Linked DNA regions of Homo sapiens. The protein of the gene in region 1 purifies or fractionates together with the protein of each later gene. This does not show direct contact. Each region holds a gene or a part of one and is shown in the gene's direction. Other genes may lie near its edges. The genes, in order: GCN1, EIF2AK4, EIF2D, HELLS and ACAT1.

Region 1 (6,210 bases):
AGGAGGCAGCCAAAGCCTTAGGCTTGGTAATCCGCCTGACCTCGGCTGACGCCCTGAGGCCCTCCGTGGTCAGCATCACTGGCCCTCTGATCCGCATCCTGGGGGACAGGTTCAGCTGGAATGTGAAGGCGGCTCTGCTCGAGACACTCAGCCTCTTGTTGGCTAAGGTGAGTGGCTGATGAGTTTGTTCAGATCTTAGAGAACAGGTCTGTCTGCAGGAGCCTGATACAAGGTGTCATGTAGCAGCAGGGCAACAGATTTATTGTGGAGAGCCGCATAGCAGAGGGAGGTAAGACCTTGGACTTCAGACATGCTACACCATGGGTCAATTCCAAGTCGTCCTTACTAGCTCTGTGACCAGGATGACCTTGGGAAAGCCATATAACCTAAGCCTGTTTCCTCACCTACAATGTGAGACTAATAATACCAGCTGCCTCATGAAGGGCTGCTAGATATGGGGATTAGATGAGGTTATGTCCAGCATGATGCCTGCTACATACTAAGCACTCAGTACATGTGAAATGCTATTATTTTGAAAAACTACTTTTTCAAAGGAAAAAATTCAGGACCACGTAAATACAAGGAAAACATTGTTTAAAGATATTGCAGTTTTTGTTTTTTTTTGTTTTTTGTTTTGTTTTGTTTTGTTTTTGAGACAGAGTCTAACTCTGTCACCCAGAGCTGGAGTGCAGTGGCGCGATCTCGGCTCACTGCAACCTCCGCCTCCTGGGTTCAAGCAATTCTTCTGCCTCAGCCTCCCAAGTAGCTGGGATTACAGGTGTCTGCCACTACACCTGGCTAATTTTTTTGTATTTTTAGTAGAGACAGGGTTTCACCAGGCTGGTCTCGAACTCCTGACCTCGCACAGCTCAGATTTACCAGCTCCCCCTATCCCCTTTGTGTGCCTGCCACAGCCTGCACACCCACCCAACTCCAGTATTTCCAGACCTTCATTGGCACTGAACCTCCAAACAGTCACTCTGGTTTTCCTAATTAACAATAAGTAAGCCGGGCGTGGTGGCTCAAGCCTGTAATCCCAGCACTTTGGGAGGCCGAGGTGGGCAGATTACCTGAGGTCGGGAGTTCGAGACCAGCCTGACCAACATGGAGAAACCCTGTCTCTACTGAAAATACAAAATTAGCCGGGCATTGTGGCGGGTGCCTGTAATCCCAGCTACTCAGGAGGCTGAGGCAGGAGAATTGCTTAAACCCGGGAGGCGGAGGTTGCAGTGAGCTGAGATCGCGCCTTGCACTCCAGCCTGGGCAACAAGAGCGAAACTCCGTCTCAAAAAAAAAACAAAACAAAAAACAGTAAGTAAATCTTTACTCTTGGACCCACCTGTATTGTATCAAAAGTGTGCCTGTGTTTCTGTATAGTCAGGGGTTGAACTGGATTTTTAGTTAGGTGGGTACACATTTGTGCAGGGAGGATTCTCCAAGGTCATTTGTTTCACAGGCTTGTTCTGAGGGCTGAATGTGGAGTGCGTATCCTGCTGTCAGTTGCTCAGTAGATGGGCTCTGCAATTATACACTGAGTCCCTTTCCCTGTCTTGGCATTAGAACTGTGCTTCAGTACTGCCGATAGTCTGCCCTGCTTGTTAATGTATTCAGAGGAGGATTTGAGTCACTTATCGATATGGACAGGTCTCCACTAAGCCAAACCCCAACGCAGCCAAGGCTGCGAGACAGCTCCCTCAGATAGCGGCCGCCGCCTCCTCGGCCTCCTGCTCCTCCAGTGTATCAAAGCATGCTGGATATGACCAGGAGGCCAAGCGAAACCTGTCTGTGTTTGGCCTCTCTGACGGGCTATCTGTCCCCAGCCCTGTATGAGAGCTGGACTCGCTGTGGTGGTTTGGGATTGTCATTTGTTCTCATGCCTGTGGTACACTGTGGCTTTGGGTCTACCACAACTGTCTTTCATGGATGTGGGTTCCTCCCACAGGTTGGGATTGCCCTGAAGCCCTTCCTGCCCCAGCTGCAGACCACTTTCACCAAAGCCCTGCAGGACTCCAACCGGGGGGTGCGCCTGAAGGCCGCAGATGCTCTGGGGAAGCTCATTTCCATCCACATTAAGGTGGACCCCCTCTTCACAGAGCTGCTCAATGGCATCCGCGCCATGGAGGACCCAGGTGTCAGGTACGGCGCTGGCAAGGGAGCACTGTGGCCTCCAGGAGGCCAGGGGTTGCTGTGGGCCGAGCCTGCGCTGGCAGGAGGGGTGGTGGTGGAGGCACCCAGGGCTTAAGGCGGTGCATTGCTTCTGCAGGGACACCATGCTGCAGGCCCTGAGGTTTGTGATTCAGGGAGCAGGGGCCAAAGTGGATGCCGTCATCCGGAAAAACATCGTCTCACTCCTGCTGAGCATGCTGGGACACGATGAGGTACGGCTGCAGGCAGGACTAGTGGCAGCACTGGACCACTGGTTTCCCTCCTCCTCCTTAGGTTGAGTTCTTCACTTTGTGTTAGAACCAGTACAGCTCAGTAGTAATAAGCATTCCTGACATTTCTATCACCCTGTATGCTTCACCAACATTTCCTCGGGTTTCAAGGGAAACGGGGCAGGTATTGTGGATATATTGGTTATTTCCGTTTGTTTGTTTGTTTTTTGGCTGAGTCTTGCTGTGTCACCCAGGCCGGAGTGAAGTGGCACAATCTCGGCTCACTGCAGCCTCCGCCTCCTATCAAGCGATTCTCCTGCCTCGGTCTCCCGAGTAGCTGGGATTACAGGTGTCCGCCACCATACCCAGCTAATACTTGTACTTTTAGTAGAGATAGGGTTTCACCATGTTGGTCAGTCTGGTCTCAAACTCCTGACCTCAGGTGATCCACCCGCCTCGGGCTCCGAAAGTGCTGGGATTAACAGGCATGAGCCACCGCGCCCGGCCGGTTATTTCTATTTTATAGATGAGGCAAGTAAGCTTTGTAGAGACCCAGACCTCTCACCTATTTGCTCTCTGATCTTAAAGAAGTCACTTTCTCTGTCTGCCTCTCATTTCCACTTTTGTAAAATGAAGAGGTTTATTTATTGTTTTGTGAAACATTTGCCGAGCTAAAGGGCCTATCCCAGAGGTGCATAGACCTCGTGGTCACAGACCTCAAGAAACTTAGTGTGTAGTGGGATAAATGGTCTCCAGGGTGTGTCCCGGTGGCAAGTCTTAGAGGTCTATTTTCGAGGGTGAGACTTGTCTGGGCCATACCCAGCAAGTAGTAGAGTCCAAACCAGAAGCCCTGGACTCCTGGTTCTGTCCCAGTTCCATCAGCCTCACCTAGTCTGGAAGCATCTGTCAAATATTTGGCTGCGAGCACTGTGGGGCCAGTAGGGAGTTGAGTCTATGGAGAAGAGTTTTCTGTTCCCTTTTCAGACAGCCCTCTGTTGTGGTCTAATTTACTTTGTAGGGCCAATCTAGGAGGAGAGGGCCTTTGGGCTCACATGGTTTTACACGTCATTGACACACACACACACCCACACACACTCCTCCTGCCCACACCTGCAACACACACACTTGCTGCTGCACTTCCCATGGCTCCAAAGGCCTAGTTCTGGTCCCCAGGCGCCAGCTGTCGGACTCCAGCCCCAGCCTTCTCTGTGGGGACAGACAGGAAAGTCTGCTGTCTTGGTCACAGTCTTTCAGGGCTTCTACAGAGTCATGTGTACAGTGCAAGCAAAAGTTAGTATTGAAACATATTTGCATTTTACCACAGTGCAGCTTAAAATAGATGAAGTTGGAGAGAGTCGGTGTCAGAGCCAGCTTTAGCTTGGCACCTGGGCTTCTGCTTCGAGCTCAGAGGCCCAAACTGCTGGCAGTCCATTCTCTTACCCTCTGAACCTCCACTCAGATTGAAGGTGGCAGTTCAGGGTGCCAGCCTGGCATTAGCTTTTTGGGTTATTGAGTCCCTGGTTGGTGGTTTGTTTTGGGGACATGTTGAGTTGGCACCTGTAATAAGGAACATAACTTAAAATCCTCTCTTGGTATTCCATAGTTAGCTGGCCAGGGAGGAGCACGGAGCCGCTCGCGTACCTGGCTCTGATTTGAACAGGAAGTGCTTGCCTTTCCTTATCTTCCTTGGCTTGATTAGTGGCTTTAGTTTGACTTCCTAGGATGAACCCAAGTAATTTCGGTGGCAGTGGGGCACTCATGCAGTAGGGAGATAGCAGGAGTCATTCTGGCCACAAGATGACACAAACTCTGTGGGAGAAAGGAGCTCAGAGTGGCCGTCTCTAGCCGGCTTCCCTGGTGGCTGGGGGCAGGTGCCTCCCCTCCTGCCCCTCCCGCCCCTCCCTGCCTCACAGGGCTGTTGATAGTAATTGAGATAATAAATATGAAACATTCAGCCTTCCTAAGAAGAAAGATGCTATGTAAATACAGTTATTACTGCTATTACAAGGATGATTACCATATGCATACACACTGGGGTTTTCTATAATTAAGTGAAGTGCTGGCTGTGTAATGTTTAACTCCATACCAGTGGCAGCCCAATCTGGCAGGGGAGCACGAGTGCCTACAGGAAGGACTGGATCTTGAGTCTCTGAGTTGGCTTTTCCACCTTCTTTGTTGCTGTCCATCCTGGGCTCTAGAGCTGCCTGCCTTGGTTCCCACACAGCTGGTGTTGTTCCCTGCACCCCCTCACTCCCTTCTCTTCCCTGTCAGGACAACACTCGCATCTCCTCAGCCGGGTGCCTAGGGGAACTGTGTGCCTTTTTGACTGAAGAGGAGCTTAGTGCCGTTCTACAGCAGTGCTTGCTGGGTAAGTACACTGGAGAGTTCCCCTTCAGGGACCTGGGCCTCTCAGCCCTAGCGAAGAGTCGACGGGCATCTCCCTCCCTCCCTCAGAGGATCTTTTAGCAACTGGACTGTCCTTTCCTTGGGAATCCAGCAGTTAAAGCAAAATCCAGGCCAGGGGTGGTGGCACTCACCTGTAGTCCCAGCTACTCAGGAGGCTGAGGTGGGAGGATCAGTTGAGCCCAAGAGTTGAAGGTTGCAGTGAGCCTTGATCACGCCCCTGCACTCTAGCCTGGGCGACAGAGCGAGGCCCTGTCTCTAAAACAAACAAACAATACTGAATTTGCAGTGGTCCCGTAGCCCTGAGTGTCTCTGCTCAAAGAACACAGCTGTAAGCCCGGAGTGGTTCATGAGCAGGCTTTCCTTACTTTCCTTAATGTGCCACTTTGGGGAGCTTCTGCCAAGATAGCAGGGAGGTCCATGTGAATGTGGCCTGGAGTTTTCCTTGTGCTCTGGGTCAGCACACTGGTCTCCAGCGGGGTGGGCCCATGGGCCTCATGGGTGCTGGGGACATGCTGTAAAATACCGGTTGATCCCAGTCGTGTCCTTCCACCCAGCGGACGTGTCCGGCATTGACTGGATGGTTCGGCACGGGCGGAGCCTGGCACTTTCCGTGGCTGTGAATGTGGCTCCTGGCAGACTTTGTGCCGGCAGATATAGCAGTGATGTTCAGGAAATGATCCTGAGCAGTGCCACGGCGGACAGGGTAAGGCATTCGGGCCATATCCCATAGGCATAGGCCACATCCCATAGGCAGCACCTTGTGGACACAGCGCGGGTGGACCCCAGACTGGGGCTTAAGAAGCTTGGGTCTAATTTTACCTTTGTCAGTAACTTGCTGTGCCCTTGGACCAGCACTTGATCCCTTTGGGCCCCAGTTTCATCATCTAAACAAGGAATTTGGGTTGAAGAATCTAGATGCCCCTTCTGGGTCAGGTCTTGGATCCCTGTTCCTGGGAACCAGTGACTGTACTCATCTGCCTCAGCCGGGGCAGCCTGCCTGAGAGCTGTCATGGTGTAAGGGGTGATGTGGTGGTGATGTAGTGGAGGGTCCTGGAGATTACTAGGAACTGGGGTTTTCCTGGCTCTGGGGAAGGGGTGGGGGGCCTCCCGTCTAGCGCTGTCTGTTCTCCACAGATCCCCATTGCGGTGAGCGGGGTCCGGGGCATGGGCTTTCTCATGAGACACCACATCGAGACAGGCGGAGGGCAGTTGCCGGCCAAACTTTCCAGCCTGTTCGTTAAGGTGAGTGGGGGCCAAGCATGTGTTTAAGCCCTAACACCTGGCTTGTGAGGAGGTCCTAGGATCAGAGACCACCAGCAGTGCGCCCTCAACTAGTTGTGTGCTAGTTCTCCGTGGACGGCCTCCAGGAGATCGCTGAACACTTAGGGATGGAATGTAGGGGGTTTCTGTGTGTGCTTTACACTGCAAT
Region 2 (6,210 bases), on another chromosome or scaffold:
TGTTTGCTTGTTTTTAGAGAAGCTTCCGATAATCTTGCAGTGCAAAATCTGAAGGGGTCATTTTCTAATGCTTCAGGTATAATTACTAATTATAATCTGAACATAATGATGCTTATATGTTTGCTCTAAGCACTTATTACTGTAGCTAACTGCTTGTGACACTGGAAATCTATTTTTAAAATAACATATACGCAATAAATTGTACCACATGGGATGCATCCCTATGCTTTGAAATCCACATCCTAGAAAAGGATAAAACAACTGGAATTTAGCTGACTCTTCTACTCTATCTCTTATTTTTACAAGTGATTTAATCTTCCTTTTACTCAATTTATTGTACAAGTGAAATGTGTATAATTTTCCTGGAGATTTTCCTCATACAGAGGATTGAAGGAAGTATTTTGAAATCCCTTGAAGAAGGACACTATACACATTTTGTTTTCGTGAAAGCCAAGAGGGCACAGTGGTGATAGTTATGCCTTTGCTTTCATCACCTCTAGCAACCTTACTTCTTTTTTAAAGAAGTGTTCCAATTAAGGCCATGAGAAGACATATTTGGCTTTTAACAGAATTGAGTCTTTCCCATTCTCTTCTGTTAGCACTAACTTTGTGTTGCCATCAGATTTCCAATTCTTGCAGGAATTTAAAGAAGTATGCAGGTTTGGTGATATTCAGCTTGATTTTCTTAGGCCCCTGAGGTTTTGATGACTCCTGTTGCCTCCCTGCCCCTTCCACCACCCCCCAACCCCTGCCTGAGGAGAGAAGCATCAAAACTGCTGGGTGTTGGGGTTCTGGGCTCCTCACCTATCCGGTGCAGATGGTTGTAGGGATAGAAAACACAGCCCAGTCGTGATCTAGCCCTTAGAATCACGACAGGATGTCTACTAATAAACTCTGCCATCTCTCTGTAGTATGTTGTAGAAAGTGGGACCAGATAAGGCCATAAATTCTGAAACTCTCTTGGTCTCAGGTTTGTTTGAAATCCATGGAGCAACAGTGGTTCCCATTGTGAGTGTGCTAGCCCCGGAGAAGCTGTCAGCCAGCACTAGGAGGCGCTATGAAACTCAGGTACACTGGGTCAGGGTTTCTTTGGCTTTCTAATATGAGTTACAGAAGAGAAAAACAACAACAGGAAAGGAAAATAAGATAAACATGGAATTTCTTGGAAATATTTTTTCCAAGAAAAAAATTTTTCTTCCAACTTGCCTAACTGGGTGGCTTCTGGCTCCAGGATTCCCATCTGTCCTTCAGAGAGGGGCCATTGTGCACTGTGGGCACCTCAAGGCAGCTGTTGTCAGAGTGACTGCATCTAAATGAAAACTATCTAATCTGGCTCTAAAGGTAGTTGAGGTTTGTTTGTGCTCTAAATAGCAAAGTAGAAGAGGCCGATGACAAGACTTAAGGCAGGCTTCTCATTCCATACATGGTTTCGGCATTTGCTATATGCCTACTGGTGTGCTAAGGGCTGTGTAAAATGTAGAAAACATTAACATGGCCCCAGTCCTCAAAAGAGTTTATAACTTAGAAGCATATGCATTATATAGAGAATAATAAAAGCAAATAAATATAGGCCAGGTGCGGTGGCTTATGCCTGTAATCCCAGCACTTTGGGAGGCCGAGGAGGGCGGATCACTTGAGGTCAGGAGTTCGAGACCACCCTGGCCAACATGGTGAAACCCTGTCTCTACTAAAAATACAAAAATTAGCCAAGCGTGGTGGCAAACGCCTGTAATCCCAGCCACTCGGGAGGCTGAGACAGGAGAATTGCTTGAACTGGGGAGGCAGAGATTGCAGTGAGCCAAGATCATGGCACTACACTACAGCCTGGGCAACAGAGCAAGACTTTGTCTCAAAATAAAATAACTACAGTAGAACACTGAGTTAAATTTATAGAATATGAATGTTAGAGTATGCTGTGGACATATGCAAAAGAGTGAGTGTTAAAAGAGAGCAGTCAATTTTAGAAATGTAATCAGACTGAAATACAAAAATCAGGTACTTTATTTTTGTAAGCTCTTCTAGCTGTTTCTCAGGATTTGGGTGGAAACCTATTTTTCCCGTCTTCCTACTGCCTTCATCACCTACCAAGTTTCAGTTCTCACACCATGTCCTCATTGCTGCCACCTCTCCCTTTTTCCCAATTTAGCTTCATACTATCATCTCTCTGTCTCTGTGTGCACTGTTTCACTGCGCTACGCCTTTATAAGGAATCATTTCAAAATTATGAAGAGATAATTGACAAGGATTATTAAACAAATGGTCAAGATAAGTTATAAAAACCTCATTTCCCCTGAGATCATATTGCTAGACACCCCTTTCTGAGTGGATTAAGAGCAAATCTTCTTTTTTTTTTTTGAGACAGAGTCTCACTCTGTCACCCAGGCTGGAGTGCAGTGGTGCAACATCAGCTCACCACAACCTCTGCCTCCCATGTTCAAGCGATTCTCCTGCCTCAGCCTCCCGAATAGCTAGTATTATAAGCGCCGGCCACCATGCCCTGCTAATTTTTCTATTTTCAGTAGAGACGGGGTTTCACCATGTTGGCCAAGCTGGTCTCAAACTCCTGACCTCAGGTGATCCCCCAGCCTTGGCCTCCCAAAGTGCTGGGATTACGGGCATGAGCCATCGTACCCAGCCAAGGGCAAACCTTTAGACACCATTTGGAATCCTTTCTAGGCTTTGGTATGTAACCCTGTGATTGTATCCTGGGATAGGAAATAAGATGGCAAGAAAGATGGCTTGGTTTAACATGTTCTGAATTCCATTTTCTTACTATTTAGGTACAAACTCGACTTCAGACCTCCCTTGCCAACTTACATCAGAAAAGCAGTGAAATTGAAATTCTGGCTGTAAGTGGCTTTCTTTAGTATTTTGAAGGTGGCTTCTGTCCATACTGTCAAAGTAGTTGCCTCAGGGTTCAGAGCTTTTTTGCTCAGTGTCAGCAGAATTTGGATGCAGGCCTTATTGTGATGTGAACTACACGCAATTTAAAACTATTAAGAACTAGGGGGAGAATTTAAGGTTTTTTGTTTCTCCTCTTTGTTCCTCTTTAAGATAGAGGAAAATGAAAACAAAAGTCATTTTCCTACATATATCAGGCCTTTGCCTTGCTAAGCTTACACCGAATACATGTAGCAGCGTCAGACCTTTCGGGTGTGGTGTAGAGGGACAGGGAGTACAGTTTCCACTGCTTATTAATTCTCCAGGGCTAAGATCTTATCACTGCACAGTTCATTAAGCCCTTTTACAGCACAATAGCATCTCAGACTCTGCAAACCCTATTCATACTGCTGCATTTCACGTGACACTATGGTCACAAGGCAGTATTGTGCTGCTGAGAGTTGATGTACATTTGTGTGTATTCACAGGTGGATCTACCCAAAGAAACAATATTACAGTTTTTATCATTAGAGGTAAGCAATATGAACTCTTCTGCACTGTGGCCTTTAAGATCCCAAATCTTTGCTATTAGTTTGCCAAAATACTGAAGACGGCATTCATTAGTGATAGTATTTTTCTGGCAGCTGCAGGAATTTAGTAACATTTTTCCTTTTATGTAACATATATGTTCCTAAATCCTATGTTGAAGGACTCATACTTTTCTAGTGACTTTATTTTTCAGATACTTATTTTATTAAAAACAAAAAACAAAAACAAAAAAACACATATACTGCTTTTACTATGTGTCAGGGTCTGGCAGGCCTTGTTGTAAGCATTTTACAAGTAGTAACTCATTTAATCATTACCACCCCAAAATGTAGATACTGTTATTATCCCTTTACAGAGTACGGAAGTAGAGAGGTTAAATATCTTACCCACAGTCACCCAGCTAGTAAGTAGTAGAACCAGGATTTGAACCTAAGCAGACTAGCAGAATCGGTGTTCTTAACCACTATACTATACTATCTCTCAAACCTCCATTCCAGCTAGGGAAGCTCATTTGCAGATTAGTACTATACAAAACAAAATCCTTTTGTAAAAATTAATTAGGTCCTTTATAAATATATATATATTTTTACAGGTACATCCCTTTATCATCAAATAGCCTAAATAAGAACTTTAAAAATTTGAATAGTTATCTTTGCTATTAAGAACACTCAACTATAGTCATAGCTACAGGTGACTTTTGCAACATGTCATATCAAAGAATACTTTTTTGTCTATCCAGAGTGTTTAGTCACAAATTAAATTAGATTAATAGTGAACTTAGCCCTAGAACTAGTATTTTATATATCATTTTTTGTTCTCTTACAAATAAGCATATACCACTATCTCACTGGCAGTGTACTGATTTATGATCCAGTCAAATGGATATACTTAAGAGCTGCTATCACCGTTGTACAAAAAGTAAACAGAGGCCGGGTGCAGTGGCTCACGCCTGTAATCCCAGCACTTTGGGAGGCCGACGTGGGTGGATCACCTGAGGTCTGGGGTTTGAGACCAGCCTGGCCAACATGGTGAAACCCCATCTCTACTAAAAATACAAAAAATTAGCCGGGCGTAGTGGCAGGCGCCTGTAATCCCAGCTACTTGGGAGGCTGAGGCAGAAGAATTACTTGAACCCAGGAGGTGGAGGTTGCAGTGAGCCGAGATTGTGCCACTGCACTCCAGCCTGGGCAACAAGACCGAAACTCCATCTCAAAAAAAAAAAAAAAAAAAGTAAACGGTAGGCAGAAATAACTGCTCTAAAGTCACATCAGCACACTAGGGCTGCAGCATTGTTAATCAGGCTCTAATTAGGGAGTCTTGTTTTAAGGAAAACTGGTGCTTCAGAGGAACCCCAGCAGTCTCCTAACTGGTTCTGCTATCTCCCTATTACTGATTCTCCTGGTATACTTGAAGAGGGAAATGACACTGGAATTTCATTAGTGACCCAGAAAAAACCAGCTAGTAAACCCTAGAGACCTGTTGTTAAGTCTTATCTATTTTTTTCCTAGTGGGATGCTGATGAACAGGCATTTAACACAACTGTGAAGCAGCTGCTGTCACGCCTGCCAAAGCAAAGATACCTCAAATTAGTCTGTGATGAAATTTATAACATCAAAGTAGAAAAAAAGTAAGTTATCACTTGGGCATAGCAGGGTTCACATGGTTAAAATTCAGGGCGGGGGGTTTCAGAGTGACATTATTTTGTTGTCTTGTTGAGGTTTGACGCCTGGTAAGCTGTTCTTAGAATTGCAGCTGACAACCAATAAATCTTGCTTGGACTGTGAATCACAGTCATGATCTCATCAATAACAAAACACAGGGGTCCTAGGAGTAGCTGTCCCAATTACAATTTTGTTCACCCAGGTAATTCACTTTCTAAGTATGTTTAAATCAAAGAAAATAACCATGACTACTTTGCTGTATGTCCTTATGTCATAATGCCAATCAATCAATCAATCATTCATGTTATCATACACTTAAAAGGCAACAAGGAAGCCTATGAGGTGAATGGTTATCTCCTTACTAGGACCTTATACTGCAGACCCCTGTCAGTCACACCTTGTATAAAACCTATATAATTTTTTAATGACTAGCCTTCCATCTTGTTTTTGCTTAAATAAAGCTCCTACAGGTGTTATAAAAATTTATTAGCTCTGTTCTTCACTCATTAAACTGAGTCTGTCCTTATATCTTTTCTTTTCTTTTGCAGGGTGTCTGTGCTATTTCTGTACAGCTATAGAGATGACTACTACAGAATCTTATTTTAACCCTAAAGAACTGTCGTTAACCTCATTCAAACAGACAGAGGCTTATACTGGAATAATGGAATGTTGTACATTCATCATAATTTAAAATTAAATTCTAAGAAGAGGCTGGGTGCAGTGGCTCACACCTTTAATCCCAGCACTTTGGGAAGCCAAGGCAGGAAGACTGCTTGAAACCAGGAGTTTGAGACCAGCCTGAGCAACAAAGCAAGACCCCATCTCTATAAAAACTAAAAAAATTAGTTGGGCATGGTGGCACATGCCTGTAGTCCCAGCTACTCCAGAGGCTGAGATGGATCATCTGAGCCTCAGGAGGTTGAGGCTGCAGTGAGCTGTGACTGCGCCACTGCACTCCAGTCTGGGACAACAGAGCAAGACCCTGTCTTAAAAAAAAAAAGAAAAAAAAAATTTTTTTCTAAGAAGCTGTCCTACAAAGTTGAGCTTTGTTAGTTTTTCATGTGTAATATATTATAAATTTATCTTTTGGGATATAATAAATGCTTTCATATACCTGCTG
Region 3 (6,210 bases), on another chromosome or scaffold:
TGTTGGCTCTCTGCTGTCTCTGACCTCACTGCTGACTCCTCTGTGGCCAGGGCTGGAGAGTATTGGAGCTGCTGCTTGATGTTTCTGACATGAGATTTTTCCAGGCGGTCTGGAAACAAGTCCTCTCCACCTTCCATTGCTCCACTGGCCCTGGATTCAGCAGATCTCAGTGAAGAGAAGGGGTCTGTCCAGATGGACTCCACCCTGCAGGGAGACATGAGGCACATGACCCTGGAGGGGGAAGAGGAGAATGGGGAGGTTCACCAGGCACGTGAAGACAAGTCTCTCTCAGAAGCCCCAGAAGACACCAGCACCAGGGGCCTGAACCAAGACTCCACAGATAGCAAAACGCTTCAAGGTATAACTCTAGGAGGAGAAGAGCCCATCTCCCCACCTCTCAATTTAGGAGCCTGACGAACTCCACTCCACTGCTGACTAGAATGGCCCTTAAGCTTCCGGGGGAGGAGGGGAAGGTCCTTATTTTCTGTGAGGGTGGCGCAGCAGCCCTTTCACATCTTGTTTTTGAATCCTTTCCACATAAGTCACGTCTTCCTGGGAGCTAATCTGCCCTGGCATTTGCCTGTCTTCAGCTACAAAGCCCTCCAAGGTTTCTTCTGGCTCAACTTCTCTGGGTGAACACTCCTAGCTTGGTGGGACTTTGTGGCTTGACTCCTTCTCTGGGGTCAACCCTCTTTAAAGGCTCAGTGCTCAAGAGAGGCTGGGAGCTTTGGTACCTGGGAATGGGTTCCTTTCAGAGCCAAGTGGGTGAGGTAGGGATGAAGCTGGGGGTCGTTTTCTTGTACCAGGTGTTCTGTATCCCTCAGGAAGGATGTGGCTCTTGTCTTTTCCCTGCAGAACAAATGGATGAGCTGTTACAGCAATGCTTCTTACATGCCTTGAAGTGCCGAGTCAAAAAGGCTGACCTCCCTTTACTCACCAGCACTTTCCTTGGCAGCCACATGTTCTCCTGCTGGTATGGAAAGCACTGATGTGGGCTGGAGGCCGGGGCCGGGGTCTCACGTGTGCTCCTTGGTAGTAGGACAGGATGGGGCCAATGCAGGGACTGGTTGAGGGACATGCTGTGGAAAGAGTGGAGGGAAGGCTTATCTGACAAATACATTAGTTCCTGGGTTCTAAAAAGTTAATTCTTAGCTTGCTGGGCTGTTAAAACAAAATCTTAAATTTTAGCCAATGAAAGGATATTGAGGACCGGAAAGTTAAAATTCCTGAGATTCTGTGAACACTGCCTCTGCCGTGGGGGTTCTGGGCAACCTCACAAATCGGGCAGCGTGTCCTCTGCAGGAAGTGTCCCAGGGCAGCCTCTTTGTCAGGAATCTTCTTCTGGAACATTCAACCTCCTCACACTTCTGAAAAGTATGTGGGGGGCCACATTAGGTTTTATTAGGAGGAAGAATTGGTGTGAACACCCCCCGTCCCGGCCCACCCCATCCAAAACACAAGCCATCAGGAGTGGTATTATTGCGTGTGGATAGAACCTGGATTTTGAAGACAGAGCTGTCTGTACTCAACTGCTAGGTCTCCAGGGTGTTCAAGCAATGTGCATTTTAGCTTGTTACTGGGCTTCTCTGAGTCCTAATTTCTAATAATCATGGGATTGCTGTAAAGATTACATAGCCTGAACCATAATAAGCATTCAGTAAATACTATCATGTCAGGAGGTTTGCTTATTGATTTTTACCCTGAGATTGAATTTATTTATTTATTTATTTTTTGTTTTGAGACACAGTTTCACTCTGTCACCCAGGCTGGAGTACAGTGGCGTGATCTCGGCTCACTGCAACCCCTGCCTCCCAGGTTCAAGAGATTCTCCTGCCTCAGCCTTCCCGAGTAGCTGGGATTACAGGCACATGCCACCATGTGCAGCTAATTTTTGTATTTTTAGTAAAGATGGGGTATCACCATGTTGCCCAGGCTGGTTTTGAACTCCTAACCTCAAGTGATCCGCCTGCCTCGGCCTCCCGTAGTGCTGGGATTACAGGCGTGAGCCACTGTGTCCGGCCTGAATTTATTTCTTTTTGAGAATCTGGCTGTGGTTTTTTAAAAAAGTGATTCTTAATGTAATGTCTTCCCATTTATACTTGGGTGTCTTTAAGCTATCCTGTACAAATGTGGTGTCTGGAGTGTGTGGAGGGATACTTGGTAATCTGTTCTGACTTTCTTGGGTTGCAAATATATGGTAAAGGGGCCCCAGAATATTCTGTAGGATAGGATTCTGGGGTGGATTCTAGAAGGACTCCTCGAGAATCCACTGCTATTGCGTGTCATGTTTTGAGAGAAGATGTAAGCTTTTATCAGGAATGTTCTCTCCAAAACTAATTGCTGTAGTGCAGGGGTCAGCATGTTTTTCTGTAAAGGGCCAGATAGTAAATATGAATATTTTCAGTTTTGCAGGCCACACCATCTCTGTTGCAACTGCTCGATGCTGCCATTGTAGCACTAATGTGACCATAGACAGTAGATAATTAGTTGGCCAGACCTGACCCCAGGATGCGGCTTGCTGGGCCCCACTCCAGGCCTGGCTGCCCACAGTGTGAGTTTGCTGTTGCAACTTTGGAGGCCACAGAAGGTTGTCTGGTCTGGGAGGAATCTAAGGCTGTATCCAATGTGGTAGCCACTGGCCACATGTCGCTATTTTCAGTTTAAATTAATTTAAAGTAAATAAAATTTAAAATTCAGTTCCCTTGGTCACATTAGTCACACTTCAAGTACTTACTACCCACATGTGGCTAATGGCTGCCCTGTTAGACAACACAGAGAACATTCCACGTCTATGGAAAGTTCTCTTGAACAGCACTGATTTAGAATGTCCCATAGTCTGCATCCCTCTCTGCTGTCATCCCTGGGCAGAGAGTTCTGGCACAGTGGCCTCTCTCTGAAGGTGGGGGAGGAAGGCTGAGGAAAAAGGCCCTCCTCTCAGTGTCAGGCAGGTCCCAGTATGACTGCTCATTAGTTTAATTTGCCTTTTCCATCTGCCATCAGCCCCGAAGGACGACAACTGGACATAAAGAAGTCAAGCTACAAAAAGGTAAGCAAGGATCTTCTTTGCAGACCCATGCAGAGAGTTGTGTAGGGGCACATATGACATAAGCCAGATGGATGCTGGGGAAGCCTTGTCTACCAGGCTCAGTCTAGAATTAAGCTTTTTGACTCCAAGTATAAGGGGGAAGAAAGAAACTCTCCCTGGGCTGAAGCAGTTGGTGGCACCCACTTTCCTTTCTCCTTTGACCCCTTTATATCTGATTAGAGTTCTGAACGGCCTCACTGGTTAGTCTCTAGCAGCTTCTTGCTCCCTGGCCCTCAGGTTGGGGGCCTCCCAGTTCCTGGTTGATGAAGGCAGGGGCTGTCTCATATCCCTGCACAGTCCCTGCCTAGCTCACTCTGGCACATCCTGGGTGCTCAGTATGTGTGTGGAATCAATGAAGTCCCCTACCACTGGCCCTCTCTCCCTTAGCTCTCTAAGTTCCTGCAGCAAATGCAGCAGGAGCAGATTATACAGGTGAAGGAGCTGAGCAAAGGGGTGGAGAGCATTGTGGCTGTGGACTGGAAACACCCGAGGTGAGTGCAGGGGGCCTGTCACTGTAGCCCAGCTGGCCCCAGGGCACCTGGGCCACGGACTGGGGATTGCTGAGATGCTAGTATAAAATGTGTTTTTTCTTTCCTTCTGCTGGGTTTTAGGATTACATCTTTCGTCATACCCGAGCCCTCCCCGACCTCCCAGACTATCCAGGAGGGTAGCAGGGAACAGCCCTATCACCCTCCAGATATAAAACCCCTCTACTGTGTCCCAGCCAGCATGACCCTGCTCTTCCAGGAGTCTGGCCACAAGTGAGTTTTTGGAGAGCAGCCCTTCTCTGCCTGCTTGGTGTTCTGGCCTACAGTTCCTCTCAACCTGAGTAGTGCTCTTTTGCGACTGGCAAAACCTGCTCTGCCCCTGTTCTCCCCTTCTCCAAAATCCAGCTTCCAGCCTTCTTCCCTGGGCAAGTTCCTCTGGACTAAATGAACGAGTAGGTCTCACCCTTTTCTGCGTGTAATTATTCTTCACATGGTCATGCTCACTTCAGTCAGGAAAAGGGAAGAAACTAGAGGCCGAAAGCTAAGGAAAGTTCCCTGCTCAGCAGGGAGTGAGTCTGGGCATCTGCATTTTTGTCTCATGGCACAGCATGAACTAACCCCTGGGTCACTTCTCCTCACCTAGGAAGGGGAGCTTTCTGGAGGGCAGTGAGGTCCGAACGATCGTCATTAACTACGCCAAGAAAAATGACCTGGTTGATGCAGACAACAAAAAGTGAGTGCATGAGAAGCACCAGATCTGTCTTATTGGGTCTTTGTCTTTATCAGACATAGACACATTTGGGGAGGATGTCTGGGAGGGAGAATAGAAAACCATAGCATCTTAGAGGTAATTAAGATCAGTGGTTTCCAAACCATGGGCTGTGGACACTCAGTTATTGTCTGGGGTGTTCAGATCCATGTATACGATCAACATTGACTACCGACTAAGTAAATATTCTCTCACAAATACCCATGAATCATCTTTAATTGGCTATTGTGAGGAATAAAATGCAAGCTTACAAAGAATTTACTGAAGTCATCATAGCTTTAGGTATTTATTTTTATTGATAGATATTTGTACATATTTATGGGGTGCATGGTATTTTGTTACATGCACAGAGTGTATAACGATCAAGGCAGGGTATTTGGGGTATCATCACCTTGAGTATTTACCATTTCTATGTGTCGGGAACACTGTAAGTCCTCTTTTCTAGCTATTTTGACATACACAATACATTGTTGTTAACTACAGTCACCTTACTCTGCTCTCAAAGACTAAACTTATTTCTTCTATCTAACTGTATATTTGTACCCATTATGGTATTATTTTCTTAAAAGGAGATACAGATGGTAAACTACCAGATGAAGAGAGTTCCATTAATTGTTTTTTACTTTAATGGCCGGACACTGTGGCTTATGTCTGTAATCCCAACATTTTTGTAGGTTGAGGTGGGAGGATTGCTTGAGGCCAGGGGTTTGAGACCCACCTGAGCAGCATGATGAAACCCTGTCGCTACAAAAAATACAAAAATTAGCCGGGCATGGTAGGGCATGCCTGTAGTCTCAGCCACTTGGGAGGTTGAGGTGGGAGGATCGCTTGAGCCCAAGAGGTTGAGGCTGCAGTGAGCAATGATGATGCCACTGCACTGCAACCTGGGTGATACAGTGAAACCCCATCTCAAAAAAAAATTTTTTTTTCACTTTAAAAAAACATCATCATGATAAAAAAGTTGAGACATACCAGCCTAATCTAATACCTTCATTTTATTTTATGTTTTATTTTTATTTTTGAGACAGAGTTTTGCTCTTGTTGCCCAGGCTGGAGTGCAATGGTACAATCTGTGCTCACTGCAACCTCTGCCTCCCAGGTTCAAGCGATTCTCCTGCCTCAGCCTCCCAAGTAGCTGGAATTACAGGGATGCGCCACCATGCCCGGCTAATTTTTGTATTTTTAGTAGAGACGGGGTTTCACCATGTTGGCCAGGCTAGTCTTGAACTCCTGACCTCAAGTGATCCACCCATCTCGGCGTCCCAAAGTGCTGGGATTACAGGCGTGGGCCACTGCGCCCGGCCCTATTTTTAGTAGAGATGGGGTTTTACCATGTTGGCCAGGCTGGTCTTGAACTTTTGACCTCAGGTGATCCTCCCGCCTCAGCCTCCCAAAGTGCTGGGATTACAGGCGTGAGCCACTGCACCTGGCCAACACCTTCATTTTAAAGATCCCCACTTCCTTTCTTTCTTCCTCACTAGCCAATTTTGATGCTAAGCTTAGAAAGCTGTGGTCACATGCTTAGTTAGTAGCAAAGGCTCCTGATCTTCAAATTTATCCCATCTCACTTTCCCTTCCACCTCCTGCTTTTCCTAGGAAAGCATTCGTGTATCTCCCACCCATAAGGTACATTGCCTTTTGGACTGTGGGCCCATAATTGATTCATATCCTGAATGTCTATAAAGGCCGTACGAGAGATGAATCCTGAATTAGCCTTCAGGTCAGAAGGGACAAGTCTAGGATTTCTTCATTGCCTCTTCTTTCCCTTTAGTCTTGTGAGATTGGATCCCATCCTATGTGACTGCATCTTAGAGAAAAATGAACAGCATACAGTCATGAAGCTTCCATGGGACAGTCTTCTGACCAGG
Region 4 (6,210 bases), on another chromosome or scaffold:
AATTGATTTTTATAATCCTAGTCTAGCTCTCATTGTCAAGAGTACCAGATTGGTTTTTCTGAAACTCAAATATAATTACTCATAACCTCCATTACTTTTTATGGTTTCACAAGGAATTGCATTTTCTTGTAGAAAAATTTGAGAATAAACAAAATACAAGGAAATCACCTGAAAAGCTGTCACACAGATAATCACTAACATTTTGGTATATGTATGTTCTTTTTCTTTGTATTACGGAAAATCTCAAAAATTACAAATGTTTAGAGGATAGTAAATTGAATGTCCACCTTTATCACTTTTTTTTTTTTTGAGATAGAGTTTCACTCTTGTTGCCCAGGCTGGAGTGCAGTGGCATGATCTTGGCTCACAGCAACATCCGCCTCTCAGGTTCAAGCGATTCTCCTGCCTCATCCTCCCGAGTAGCTGGGATTACAGGCATGTGCCATCATGCTCGGCTAATTTTTAGTTTTATCAGAGATGGGGTTTCTCCATGTTGGTCAGGCTGGTCTTGAACTCCTGACCTCAGGTGACCCGCCCGCCTCGGCCTCCCAAAGTGCTGGGATTAGAGGCATAAGCCACCACGCCCAGCCAATCGCTTTTTAATTCTGGGATATTTTAACAAAAAGCTCAGCAAGACTTTTTTTTTTTCTTAAGGTGGAGTCTCGCACTGTCACCTGGGCTGGAGTGCAGTGGCATGATCTCGGCTCACTACAACCTTTGCCTCTTGGGTTCAAGTGAGTCTCCTGTCTCAGCCTCCCAAGTAGCTGGGATTACAAGTGCCCACCACCACGCCCAGCTAATTTTTTGTATTTTTAGTAGAGACAGGGTTTCACCATGTTGGCCAGGCTGGTCTCAAACTCCTGACCTTGTGATTTGCCTGACTTGGCCTCCCAAAGTGCTGGGATTACAGGCTTGAGCCACCATGCCCGGCCAAGACTATTTTTTAGAACCATAACCACAATACAGTTACCACACTTTTGAAAGTCGATGGGAATTCCTTAATATTTAAATTTCTCAATAGGCTAATTTTTATTTTTAGGGATGGGGGCTTGCTGTATTGACGAGACTGGAGTGCAGTGGCTATTCCTGAGTATTGTCATAGTGACTACACCTCAAACACCTGGGCTCACATGATCCTCCTGCCTCAGTGTCCCGAGTAGTAGTGCAGGGACTATAGGCACTTACCGCTGTGATCTGCTTAGCTCATACATTTTAAAAAAATAGTTGGTTCAAATCAGGATCCGAAAAAGTTACATAAATTGTGTTTGATTAATGCGTATCTTGGGTCTCTTTTAGATCTAGAGTGTCTCTCATCTTTTTTAAGAAACATTATTTGTTGAAGAAAATGAGTAATTCTGTATAATTCCCCACATTCTAGACTTTACTGATTGTATCCCCATGATTTCTCTGCCTCTTGTGTTTCCTGTTAACTATAGTAACTATAAGTTAAATACGGAAGTTTGTGATTAAGGTGTTTTTTTATTTTTTTTTTTATTTTTATTTTTTTTTGGGAGACAAGATCTTTCTCTGTTGCCCAGGGTGGAGTGCAGTGGTGCCATCTCGGCTCATTGAACCTCTGATTGCTGGGCTCAAGCAATCCTCCCACCTCATCCTCCTGAGTAGCTGGGACTACAGGCGTGTACCACCAAGCCCAGCCAACATTTATATTTTTTGTAGAGATGGGATCTCACCATGTTGCCCATGCTTGATTTTTAATAAGAATACTTCATTGGTGGTATTTATAGATTTTGATTTATTTCCAAATTGTTCTTTCAAAAGTTTCATTTTATCTAGTCATTTTACAGGACAGCTTTTATCAGTTCCTGGTATAAAATCCTTTTAGCCTCAGCCTTATAATATGAATATCTATACATACATAATACTTCATACACACACGATATACATATATTCCCATGTATATATATGTGTGTGTGTCAGCCACTTACATGTCCTGTTACTCTTCTATGAATCTTAAATTTGATATTGCTGTTTTGAATCTACTTCATCCCCTATGCCTTCTATATTCTCTCTGCTTGAAATCTACCCTCACTATCTTGAATGATGAAGCCTGGTGACAACTTTTTAGATAATTTTATGTAAGATAATTATTTGCTAAGTCATCCAGTGACATACTCGGGTATTGTTTGTCTCCCTACCAGCAGCATCTAGTAGGTACTTCAAAATCAGAGCACTTTATTCTGTATTTTTAATTTTTTCTGTCTTTGCCTCTTACCCAGGAATGCAAACTCAGATGTCTATCCACAGAGGCCTAAAGTGGGCTGTAACATGGTTTGGCAAACTTTTTCTGTAAATAGCCAGATAGTAAATATTTTTAGCTTTTGAGTAGTTTTGTGGGCAACTACTCAACCCTGTACTCTGCTGTTGTTGCTTGAAAGCAGCCATAGACAAACCGTAAACAAGTGAGGCTGACTTTGTTCCAATTTATCCCATTTCTTTGCTTTTAAAAAAATACCTGTGTATTCGCTTAGCTGGAGTTGGTCTACAGGCTGTAGTTTGCTGACCCCAGGACTAGAGGTTTGTTGCCATGTGTGAATTTGTACTTAATCTACTCAGATTAAAAGAAAGAAAAGCTGGAAAATCACTGTATTTGATGAAATATCCCATTGTATAAGTGTTCCCAAATTAGCCTAGAATGTTATGAAATATTATGAGCCAGTAATGTCTATAGGCTTATTTCTGCCTGAAGGCTACTAGTTTTATCTTGAGAATCTCATCCTCATTTCCTGGCAAAATGAGCACAGAATAAATGCTTGTTGAATAAATAAATAAATGAACTTCATACATTATTAATTTGTTTTTGTTTTCTCAAACTACTAGGAAATTTTGTCTGTGGCTAAAAAAAATAAAAAGGAGAATGAGGTAAGAAATTTATAATGTAAGATTAAGTTTAGAAGTCATATTTACTCCTCAGTTACTAGTCCTTTTTCTTTAATCAGCAGTATACGTTCTTCTCACTATTATCCTGTTTCTTTGCTTTAAAAAAAAATACCTATGTATTCACTTCTTCCATATCCAACATTCTTCTTTTTTATGTATCAACTTTAGTTAGTTGTTTTATTGCATGATTCTTGATGTATAAATGTTAATTTATGGGTCTAGCAATGTTGCTTTTAACTTGTGAATCTGGCAGTGATACAAGTGCTCGTAACCATGTGGATATAAACCGTGAATCATCTTATGGAAGCTGTGAGGGATGCCTTAATCTTGCTTCAGACCTTAAAGATTTTTTAAGTTTCTTAAAAGTTCTGTTTGAGAAGGCTTGATTTCCGAGCCACCTCTTCACTTAGCCCATTTCATGTAGAGAGGTTCCTTGTTATCTGACTTTTTATTGTTCAAGTACTTAAAATTACAAGGTTGCCTAGGGAAGCAAAATAATCATGACATGAAAATATTCATGAATGGATATGAACTTCAGGTAGTTAATTTACATATTAAAGATTTTTAGGCCTTTGGGAAATTAATGTTATGTTTATAAAATGAGAGATAATCTATTTGGTCATATAATTTTGTCCAAAATTTATATTGTAAAAGTGTCTTGGTTTTTATTCTTTGTTAAGTTATTAAGGACTGGTTTATGGGTGCAGTTTAGTTGGATTTTTAAAGATTTAGTTAGATAAACATTTAGTTGGATTTTTAAGATAAAGTCTAGATGTAATCTTCTGTAATTTACTATGGGATTTTGGCTTCATTTTATAACTTACAGTCAGTAAGAAATAGTTGTTAAGTATGGTATTTTAATGAATTTCGACACTTGCATACACTTGTGTAACCACCATCCAAATCAAGGTATAGAACATTTCCATTGTAAAGGGATCTCTTCTATGTCTTTCCACCCCCAAACCCAGAGGAGGCCACTTTTTACACCTTTTATAGGATGGCTTATTATTTCCTTTCCACTCAACATGTCTGTGATACTCATTTATGTTGTTGAGCATATTAGTAACCGGTTTCTTCTTATTGACTAGTATTCTGTTGAATGAATGTTACAATTTTCTCATCCATCCCCTTATTGATGGGCATTTGGGTTGTTTGCAGTTTGTGACTTTTATGAGTAAGGTTGCTATGATAATTTGCACACAAGTCCATGTGTAGACATGTTTTCATACTTTCTGCCTGTGTACCTGGGAATGGTATTGTTGTGTTACGTGGCAAATGTGTGTTCATAAGAAAGTACAGATTTTCCCCCCCAAAGTAAACACATCATTTTATTCTCTCGCCAGCAATGTTTGAAAACTCCAGCTTACATTATTGTCAGCATTTGATAGTCTTTTTAATTTCAGCCATTTTATTAGATGAGAAATGGTAACTTGTGTGGTTTTTAACTTGCATTTTCCTAATTACTACTGAAGTAGAGTATATTTTTATGTTCTTTGATAACTATGTTTTCTTTCTTTTTTTTTCTTTTTTGAGATGGAGTGTCACTCTGTCGCCCAGGCTGGAGTGCAATGGCACGATCTCGGCTCACTGTAAACTCTGCCTCCCAGGTTCAAGCGATTCTCCTGCCTCAGCCTCCCAAGTAGCTGGGACAACAGGCTCATGCCACCATGTTCAGCTAATTTTTGTATTTTTAGTAGAGACAGTGTGTCACCATTTTGGCCAGGATGGTTTTGATCACTTGACCTCATGATCTGCCTGCCTTGGCCTCCCAAAATGCTGGGATTACAGGCGTGAGCCACCATGCCCGGCCTGTATGTTTTCTTTTGTAAAGTATCTGTTAATATCTTTTGCCCGTCTTATTTATGCGTACTGTATTTTCTGTGTAACAGTTTAATAAATTATTGAGTATCACAATATTAGAAGTTTGGAAGAGAGATACAATTCTAATGATCTTTTCAAAAGTATGTGCCTGATTTTAATTTGTAAGGGTTATTCTCAGATTTTTATATTTTATTTTATTTTATTTTATTTTATTTTTTGAGATGGAGTCTTCTGTCACCCAGGCTGGAGTGCAGTGGCTGTGTTCATGGCTCACTGCAGCCTTGACTTCCTGGGTTTAAGTGATCCTCAGCCTCCCGAGTAGCTGGGATACAGGCAGTTGCGTGCAACCACACCCAGCTAATTTTTTGTATTTTTAGTAGACACAGGGTTTCGCCATGTTGTCCAGGGTTGTCTTGGATACCTGGACTCAGGTGATCCTCCTGCCTCAGCTTCCCAAAGTGCTGTGATTGTAGGATTAGCCACTGTGGCAGCCTGTTATTTTTTTTTTTAGTAGCTTTTCATTTGTAGAGGGATGGCGATGTCTCCAGTTTTTTAATCCAGGTGTGATCTTAGTCTTCTATACTTAATGATTATAGGACTCAGTAGATTTTGTTAGTTGCATTTTCTGATAAATGGTGGCATACAGCAGCATTTTGTATAACACATCTTATTAAACTTTTTTTCTCTACAGGATGAAAACTCCTCCTCTACTAATCTCTGTGTGGAAGATCTTCAGAAAAATAAAGATTCGAATAGTATAATTAAAGATAGATTGTCTGAAACGGTTAGGCAGAATACTAAATTCTTTTTTGACCCAGTCCGGAAGTGTAATGGTCAGCCAGTACCTTTTCAACAACCAAAGCACTTCACTGGAGGAGTGATGCGATGGTACCAAGTAGAAGGCATGGAATGGCTTAGGGTAATGAATTGGAATTTTTAATACAAGATACTGGTTTTATTTCTATAGTAGCCTAATGATTTGAGGTACCACAACTTGAGTCATTTCTATCATGTTTCACTATTATACATTTGTATGTGGATACTTGCTTTCTGATTTCTTTACCCTGAATTTTTAGAAGTAGAAATTACCTTGTTAATGGCTTCCAGCACTTTTATGGCTTTGATAAAGGACTTTCCAGTGTTGTTATAATTTATGGTGTGAATATATCAGCTTTAACATAATTCTCATCTTTGGGTGTGATTTTTTAAAGAGAAGAAATAAAATATTGTAATCCTGTAGTTGTTTATATCCAAGTTTAAATACAGTATCTATTATTTTGTCCAGATGCTTTGGGAAAATGGAATTAATGGCATTTTAGCAGATGAAATGGGATTGGGTAAGACAGTTCAGTGCATTGCTACTATTGCATTGATGATTCAGAGAGGAGTACCAGGACCTTTTCTTGTCTGTGGCCCTTTGTCTACACTTCCTAACTGGATGGCTGAATTCAAAAGATTTACACCAGATGTAAGACATGCTTCCTTATGTTA
Region 5 (6,210 bases), on another chromosome or scaffold:
TTATGTTGGAGGGGTGGATAATAAAACAAAGATGTGAACCACATACTTACAGTGTAAGAGGTGCTTTGAAGGAAATAAAGATATTCATATAAAAGAGAGGAAAAAGTAGAGGGTAACTTTAAATAGAGTAGTTAGGGTGGACCACTCTGGGAATGTGTCATTAGAAAAGACATGAAGAATAGGCTGGGTGTGGTGGCTCACGCCTGTAATCCCAGCACTTTGGGAGGCTGAGGCGGGCAGATCACCAGGTCAGGAGATCGAGACTATCCTGGCTAACAAGGTGAAACCCTGTCTCTATAAAAATGCAGAAAATTAGCCAGGCGTGGTGGCGGGCGCTTGTAGTCCCAGCTACCTGGAAGGCTGAGGCAGGAGAATGGCGTGAACCTGGGAGGCGGAGCTTGCAGTGAGCCGAGATCGCGCCACTGCACTCCAGTCTGGGTGACAAAGTGAGACTCCGTCTAAAAAAAAAAAAAAAGAAAAGACATGAAGAATAAAAATGAGCCAGCCATGGAGAGCTGGGAAGACTTTTTGTTTTGTTTTGTTTTTGATTTTTTTGGAGACAGGATCACACTCTGTTGCACAGGCTAGAGGGCAGCGGCGCGATCTCGGCTCACTGAAACTTCTGCCTCCTGGATTCAAGCGATTCTCCCACCTCAACCTCCCAAGTAGCTGGGACTACAGGTGCCCACCCCCACACCTGGCTAATTTTTGTATTTTTAGTAGACACGGGGTTTCACCATGTTGGCCAGGCTGGTCTCAAACTTCTAATCTCAAGTGATCCACCTGCCTCGGCCTCCCAAAGGGCTGGGATTATAGGCATGAGCCACTAGGCCCGGCCTGAGGAGACTATTACTGGCAGAGGCACACTGCAGAGACCTTGAGGTATCGGGATAGGGTTTAGAACAAAGAGATGCCAGTGGCTGGCACAGAGCAAGAGTGATGTAAATTTGGAGAGAAAACCTAGAGCCAGATCATGCAGGTTCTTGGAGGATGAGGTAAAGAATTTGTATATAATTCCAAGAGCAATGAAAAGCTGTTAAATTATTTTAAGCAGTAGAGTGATATGATCTGATTTACATTTTTCAAAGCTGGAGGGACTGTAGAGAGGTGTCAGGGGAGGCAGGGAACTAGGTAGAAGGCCATTAATAGGAACAAGAGATGGTGGCTTGGACTAGGTGGCAGCAGTAGACATGAGGCAGAGTGGACGAATTTAGTTATGTTTTGGACGCTGTTCACAGTATCTGGATTTTAGGGATTGCAATAAAGGGAAGGATGAAGGATGATTTTGGCTTGAGCACCTGAGAATACCGGCAACAAACAGGTTTTCTTTTTTTTTTTTTTTTTTTTGAGATGGAGTCTTCTCTGTCACCCAGGCTGGAGTGCAATGGCGCAATCTCAGCTCACTGCAACCTCCACCTCCCGGGTTTAAGCAGTTCTCTTGCCTTAGCCTCTGGAGTAGCTGGGATTACAGGCGCGTGCCACCATGCCCTGTTATTTTTTTATTTTATTTTATTTTTATTTTTTTGTATTTTTGGTAGAGACGGGGTTTCAGCATGTTGGCCAGGCTGGTCTGGAACTCCTGACCTCGTGATCCGCCCCCCTCGGCCTCCCAAACTGCTGGGATTACAGGGGTGAGCCACTGCACCTGGCCACAAACAGGTTTTCTAGGGTTGGAAATTGAGAGCTATGATTTGGACATTCACCTGCAGCTGTCAGGTTGGCGCTTGGGTGTGAGTCTGGTGGTCAGTTGAAAGGTCAGGGTTGGAGATAGAAATTTGGAAAATCATCAGCACATAGAAGCCTTTTTTTTTTTTTTTTGAGACAGAGTCTCACTCTGTCACCCAGGCTGGAGTGCAGTGGCGTGATCTTGGCTTACTGCAAGCTCCACTTCCCGGGTTCACACCATTCTCCCACCTCAGCCTCCCAAATAGCTAGGGCTACAGGTGCCCGCCACCACGCCTGGCTAATTTTGTTTTTGTATTTTTAGTAGATATGGGGTTTCACCGTGTTAGCCAGGATGGTCTCTATCTCCCGACCTCGTGATCTGCCTGCCTTGGCCTCCCAAAGTGCTGGGATTACAGGCGTGAGCCACTGTGCCCGGCCTCATAAATGCTTTTTAAAGCCATGGGACTGGATATAACTAAGGATATAGTGAAGTTAAATTAAAAGAGGCCTGGAACAAAGCCCTGGGACATTCAGCACTTGGAGGTTGGAAGGGGAAGATGAGATAGTAAAGGAGACTGAGGTAAATATGACTAATGAGGTAGGAAGGAGTCCACGTTTGTAATGGAAGCCAAGACAAGGAAGGGTTTCTGCAGTGGATTATACATATTACCTCATTTTATTCTCATAACAGCCTGTGGAGGGTATTTAAGAAAACCAAGGTAAGTGTGTCTAAGTAACTTGCTCAAAAATACTCAGCTTGCAGGGCACAGTGGCTCACGCCTGTAATCCCAGCACTTTGGAAGGCCAACGCAGGAGGATCGCTTGAGCCCAGGAGTTTGAGACCAGCTTGGTAAGATAGTGAGACTCTGTCTCTACAAAACAAACAAACAAAGAATACTGAGCTGGTAAGCCCAGGCTCTTAACTGCTCAGCATATTTCTCAAAGAAAGGTGAGCCCAGTCTTGCTGATGTGTTAAAAGGTTAAGTGAGACAATTATAGCGAGTTGGATTTTGCTACACAGACATTGCTGATGTTGCTCAGAACCAACAGTGGTAAACTGGCAGAAATAAAATCCTGATCTGAGTGGGTTGAACTGTAAAGAGGAGGTGAGGACAAGCAAATAGACACTGTAGGTAACCTGGAGAACCTTTCTTGCCAAAGAGAACTAAAGTAAGGTGAGGCCATGTGCAGTGGCTCATGCCTGTAATCCCAGCACTTTGGGAGGCCGAGGCAGGCGGATCACCTGAGGTCAGGAGTTCAAAATCAGCCTGGCCAACGTGGTGAAACCCTGTCTCTACTAAAAATACAAAAATTAGCCGGGCGTGGTGGCGCATGCCTGTAGTCCCAGGTACTCGGGAGGCTGAGGCAGGAGAATTGCTTGAACCTGGGAGGCAGAGGTTGCAGTGAGCTGAGATCGCACCACTGCACTCCAGCCTTTTTTCAAAAAGAAATGAGGTGAAAGCTCGGGAATGTGGGTCAAGAGACATTTATTTGTTTTTACTTTGTTTTTTAGGTGGGGGGAATCAGATCCTGTTTGTATGCTTATGGAATTATCCAGAAGTAAAAGGGGTGAATGATGTAGAGGAGAAGGAAGGGATAACTGTGCCATCTTTGAAAAGGCAACTGGAAATGGGATCCAGAGTAAAGTGGAGAGAACCAGGGAAGATTCCATTAAACTGGACCAGAAGCTTGAAAGAAGAGAAGTGGCTTAGTAAACAAGGAACAAACTAGCTAAGTAGAAAGGGGACTTTTAAAATTTAATTTTTATTTCAATAGGCTTTTGGGAACAGGTGGTGTTGGATTATATGAATAAGTTCTTTATTGGTGGTATCTGATATTTTGGTGCACCCATCACCTGAGCAGTATACACTGTAAACCAATGTGTAGTCTTTTATTCCTCACCCCCACCCCCCGCCTTTCCCCTGAGTCCCCAAAGTCCACTGTATCATTCTTATGCCTTTGTGTCCTCATAGCGCAGCTCCCACTTATGAGTGAGAACATAAGCTGTTTGGTGTTTCCATTCCTGAGTTACTTCACTTAGAATAATAGTCTCCAATTCCATCCAGGTTGCAGTGAGTGCCATTATTTCATTCCTTGTTACGGCTGAGTAGTATTCCATGGTATATATACCACATTTGCTTTATCCACTTGTTGATTGATGGGCATTTGGGCTGGTTCCATATTTTTGCAATTGCAAATTGTGCTGCTATGAACATGCGTGTGCAAGTGTCTTTTTCGTGTAACGACTTTTTTTTTTGAGATGGAGTCTTGCTCTGTCGCCCAGGCTGGAATGCAGTGGCGTGATCTCGGCTCACTGCAACTTCTGCCTCCTGGGTTCAAGCGATTCTCCTGCTTCAGCTTCCCGAGTAGCTGGGATTACAGACGTGTGCCACCACGTCCAGCTAATTTTTGTATTTTTAGTAGAGTTGGGGTTTCACCATGTTGGCCAGGCTGGTCTTGAACTCCCGACCTCATTATCCGCCCGCCTCAGCCTCCTAAAGTGCTGGGATTAAAGGCATGAGCCACTGTGCCTGGCCTTCATATAATGACTTCTTTTCCTCTGGGTAGATACCCAGTAGTGGAATTGCTGGATCAAATGGTAGTTCTAGTTTTAGTTCTTTAAGGAGTCTTCAGAAAGGGGACTTTTTGAAGAGATACAATGGGCAAGCACTAGGACATCCAAGGATAGGAAATAAAGTGCAGCTGGCTGGGTACAGGGATGTGTGCCTGTAGTCGCAGATACTTGGGAGGCTGAGGCAGGAGGATTGCTTGAGTCCAGGAGTTCTGGTTTATTTTTTATTTTTATATATGAAAATTTTCAAACAAAATAAATTGCAACTGACCCTGCCAGAACCCAAGCTAGAAAATCACTAACCAAAGCCATCTTTTGCCTCTTGTGGTGTGCCATGGTCTATTTCTCCTGTCTCTGAGTATATATGTTGCATTCTTTTGCTTCTCAGTGTATTCATGGCTTTTCTCTTTGTTCTAACCGCTGCTTTTCTGTGGCATTGGCTGGTCAGCTCCAGCCCCTTTTGACTTTTCAGTCCCAGTCCCCACCGTCATCCAACTGACCCAGTCTCTCTGGGTCCTAGCTTGGGTGAGTCCATTCCATTCTTGATCCCATCAGCTCTGGCCAGAGGCAGGGGAGTCACCTTGTAAGTACTTAGGGTTGTCCTTTGAGAAAGACATGTGTTTGGAGAGGCAGTGACCGGCATGTTTACTACAAGTAGGAACTTTTTTTTTTGTAAGTTTTTAAATTATTATTTTTTAAATTTATTATCATTTTTTGAGACTCGCTCTGTCGCCCAGGCTGGAGTACAGTGGCGTGATCTTGGCTCACTGCAAGCTCTGCCTCCCAGGTTCAAGTGATTCTCCTGCCTCAGACTCCTGAGTAGCTGGGCTTACATGCATGGACCACCACACCCAGCTAACTTTTATATTTCTAGTAGAGACGGGGTTTGACCATGTTGGTCAGGCTGGTCTTGAACTCCTGTCCTCATGATCCACCCGCCTCGGCCTCCAAAGTGCTGGGATTACAGGCATGAGCCACTGCGCCCAGCTACTGATAGTCTAATTTCAGATCAGTAGGTCTCTGAATTGTGTCCTGCGTTGTCAGAATTAATTAATTAATCTATTTATTATGGAGTTTCACTCTTGTCTCCCAGGCTGGAGTGCAGTGGCGTGATCTTGGCTCACTGCAACCTCCGCCTCCTGGGTTCAAGCAATTCTTCTGCCTCATCCTCCTGAGTGGCTGGGATTACAGGTGCCCGCTACCACGCCTGGCTAATTTTTGTATTTTTAGTAGAGACGGGGTTTTTTCGCCAAGTTGGCCAGGCTGATCTCTAACTCCTGACCTCCAGTGATATGCCCACCGCAGCCTTCCAAAGTGTTGGGATTACAGGCGTGAGCCACTTGCCCAGCCTACTGTTGACATTTGTTCCTAAGAAGTGTGGAAAGAACTGAGAAGTAGTAGGGGCAAGATGTTTACTCTTTCCTTTTTTAAGAAATAATTTATCTGCTATTATAGGTCATATTTATATGAGATGTGTTTGCCTCATATAAATCAGACAATTGTTGGAAGTGGATAGGGAGAAACAGCAAGTTTTACTTGAAAACAATCTTAAAAAATGAAAATATCTTGTTAGATTCTAAGACTAAATAATTTAGAACCTAGCTTTAACTCAAAACTACATTTTAGAAAGCTATATTTAAGAAAGACTTGGAATTTTTTTTTTTTTTTTTTAGACAGTCTTGCTTTGTTGCCAAGGCTGGAGTGTAGTCCCAGAATCTTGGCTCACTGCAACCTCCGCCTCCTGGGTTCAAGCTATTCTCCTGCCTCAGCCTCTGAAGTAGCTGGGATTATAGGCATGTGCCACAATGCTGGGCTAACTTTTGTATTTTTAGTAGAGACTGGGTCTCACCACGTTGTCCAGGCTGGTCTTGAACTCCTGACCTCAGGTGATCCGTCCACCTTGGCCTCCCAAAATGCTAGGATTACAGGCATGAGCCACCACGCCTGGCCAAGACTTGGAAATTTTAAGATAG

Evidence for each region.
Region 2: the proteins of GCN1 (region 1) and EIF2AK4 purify together in Homo sapiens (affinity purification with western blotting, with the first as the bait; one study listed by BioGRID). This does not show direct contact.
Region 3: the proteins of GCN1 (region 1) and EIF2D fractionate together in Homo sapiens (co-fractionation; one large-scale study listed by BioGRID). This does not show direct contact.
Region 4: the proteins of GCN1 (region 1) and HELLS fractionate together in Homo sapiens (co-fractionation; one large-scale study listed by BioGRID). This does not show direct contact.
Region 5: the proteins of GCN1 (region 1) and ACAT1 fractionate together in Homo sapiens (co-fractionation; one large-scale study listed by BioGRID). This does not show direct contact.

What each region holds. Positions count from the first base shown.
Region 1 is NC_000012.12:120,130,459-120,136,668, reverse strand, and holds part of GCN1 (stalled ribosome sensor GCN1), read left to right. Parts: coding exon 1-167; intron 168-1,942; coding exon 1,943-2,136; intron 2,137-2,263; coding exon 2,264-2,378; intron 2,379-4,646; coding exon 4,647-4,743; intron 4,744-5,335; coding exon 5,336-5,484; intron 5,485-5,915; coding exon 5,916-6,023; intron 6,024-6,210. UniProt on the Homo sapiens protein: Ribosome collision sensor that plays a key role in the RNF14-RNF25 translation quality control pathway, a pathway that takes place when a ribosome has stalled during translation, and which promotes ubiquitination and degradation of translation factors on stalled ribosomes.
Region 2 is NC_000015.10:40,029,389-40,035,598, forward strand, and holds the end of EIF2AK4 (eIF-2-alpha kinase GCN2), read left to right. Parts: intron 1-17; coding exon 18-76; intron 77-970; coding exon 971-1,068; intron 1,069-2,780; coding exon 2,781-2,849; intron 2,850-3,368; coding exon 3,369-3,413; intron 3,414-4,937; coding exon 4,938-5,056; intron 5,057-5,638; coding exon 5,639-5,696; 3' UTR 5,697-6,203; downstream 6,204-6,210. UniProt on the Homo sapiens protein: Metabolic-stress sensing protein kinase that phosphorylates the alpha subunit of eukaryotic translation initiation factor 2 (EIF2S1/eIF-2-alpha) in response to low amino acid availability.
Region 3 is NC_000001.11:206,597,099-206,603,308, reverse strand, and holds part of EIF2D (eukaryotic translation initiation factor 2D), read left to right. Parts: intron 1-104; coding exon 105-358; intron 359-855; coding exon 856-973; intron 974-3,000; coding exon 3,001-3,046; intron 3,047-3,472; coding exon 3,473-3,576; intron 3,577-3,696; coding exon 3,697-3,846; intron 3,847-4,216; coding exon 4,217-4,306; intron 4,307-6,113; coding exon 6,114-6,209; exon of another isoform or gene 6,210-6,210. UniProt on the Homo sapiens protein: Translation initiation factor that is able to deliver tRNA to the P-site of the eukaryotic ribosome in a GTP-independent manner.
Region 4 is NC_000010.11:94,568,550-94,574,759, forward strand, and holds part of HELLS (lymphoid-specific helicase), read left to right. Parts: exon of another isoform or gene 1-2,838; coding exon 2,839-2,880; exon of another isoform or gene 2,881-5,410; coding exon 5,411-5,638; intron 5,639-6,004; coding exon 6,005-6,187; intron 6,188-6,210. UniProt on the Homo sapiens protein: Plays an essential role in normal development and survival. Involved in regulation of the expansion or survival of lymphoid cells. Required for de novo or maintenance DNA methylation. May control silencing of the imprinted CDKN1C gene through DNA methylation.
Region 5 is NC_000011.10:108,125,465-108,131,674, forward strand, and holds part of ACAT1 (acetyl-CoA acetyltransferase, mitochondrial isoform b precursor), read left to right. Parts: intron 1-2,421; exon of another isoform or gene 2,422-2,515; intron 2,516-3,178; exon of another isoform or gene 3,179-3,395; intron 3,396-3,638; exon of another isoform or gene 3,639-3,737; intron 3,738-6,210. UniProt on the Homo sapiens protein: This is one of the enzymes that catalyzes the last step of the mitochondrial beta-oxidation pathway, an aerobic process breaking down fatty acids into acetyl-CoA.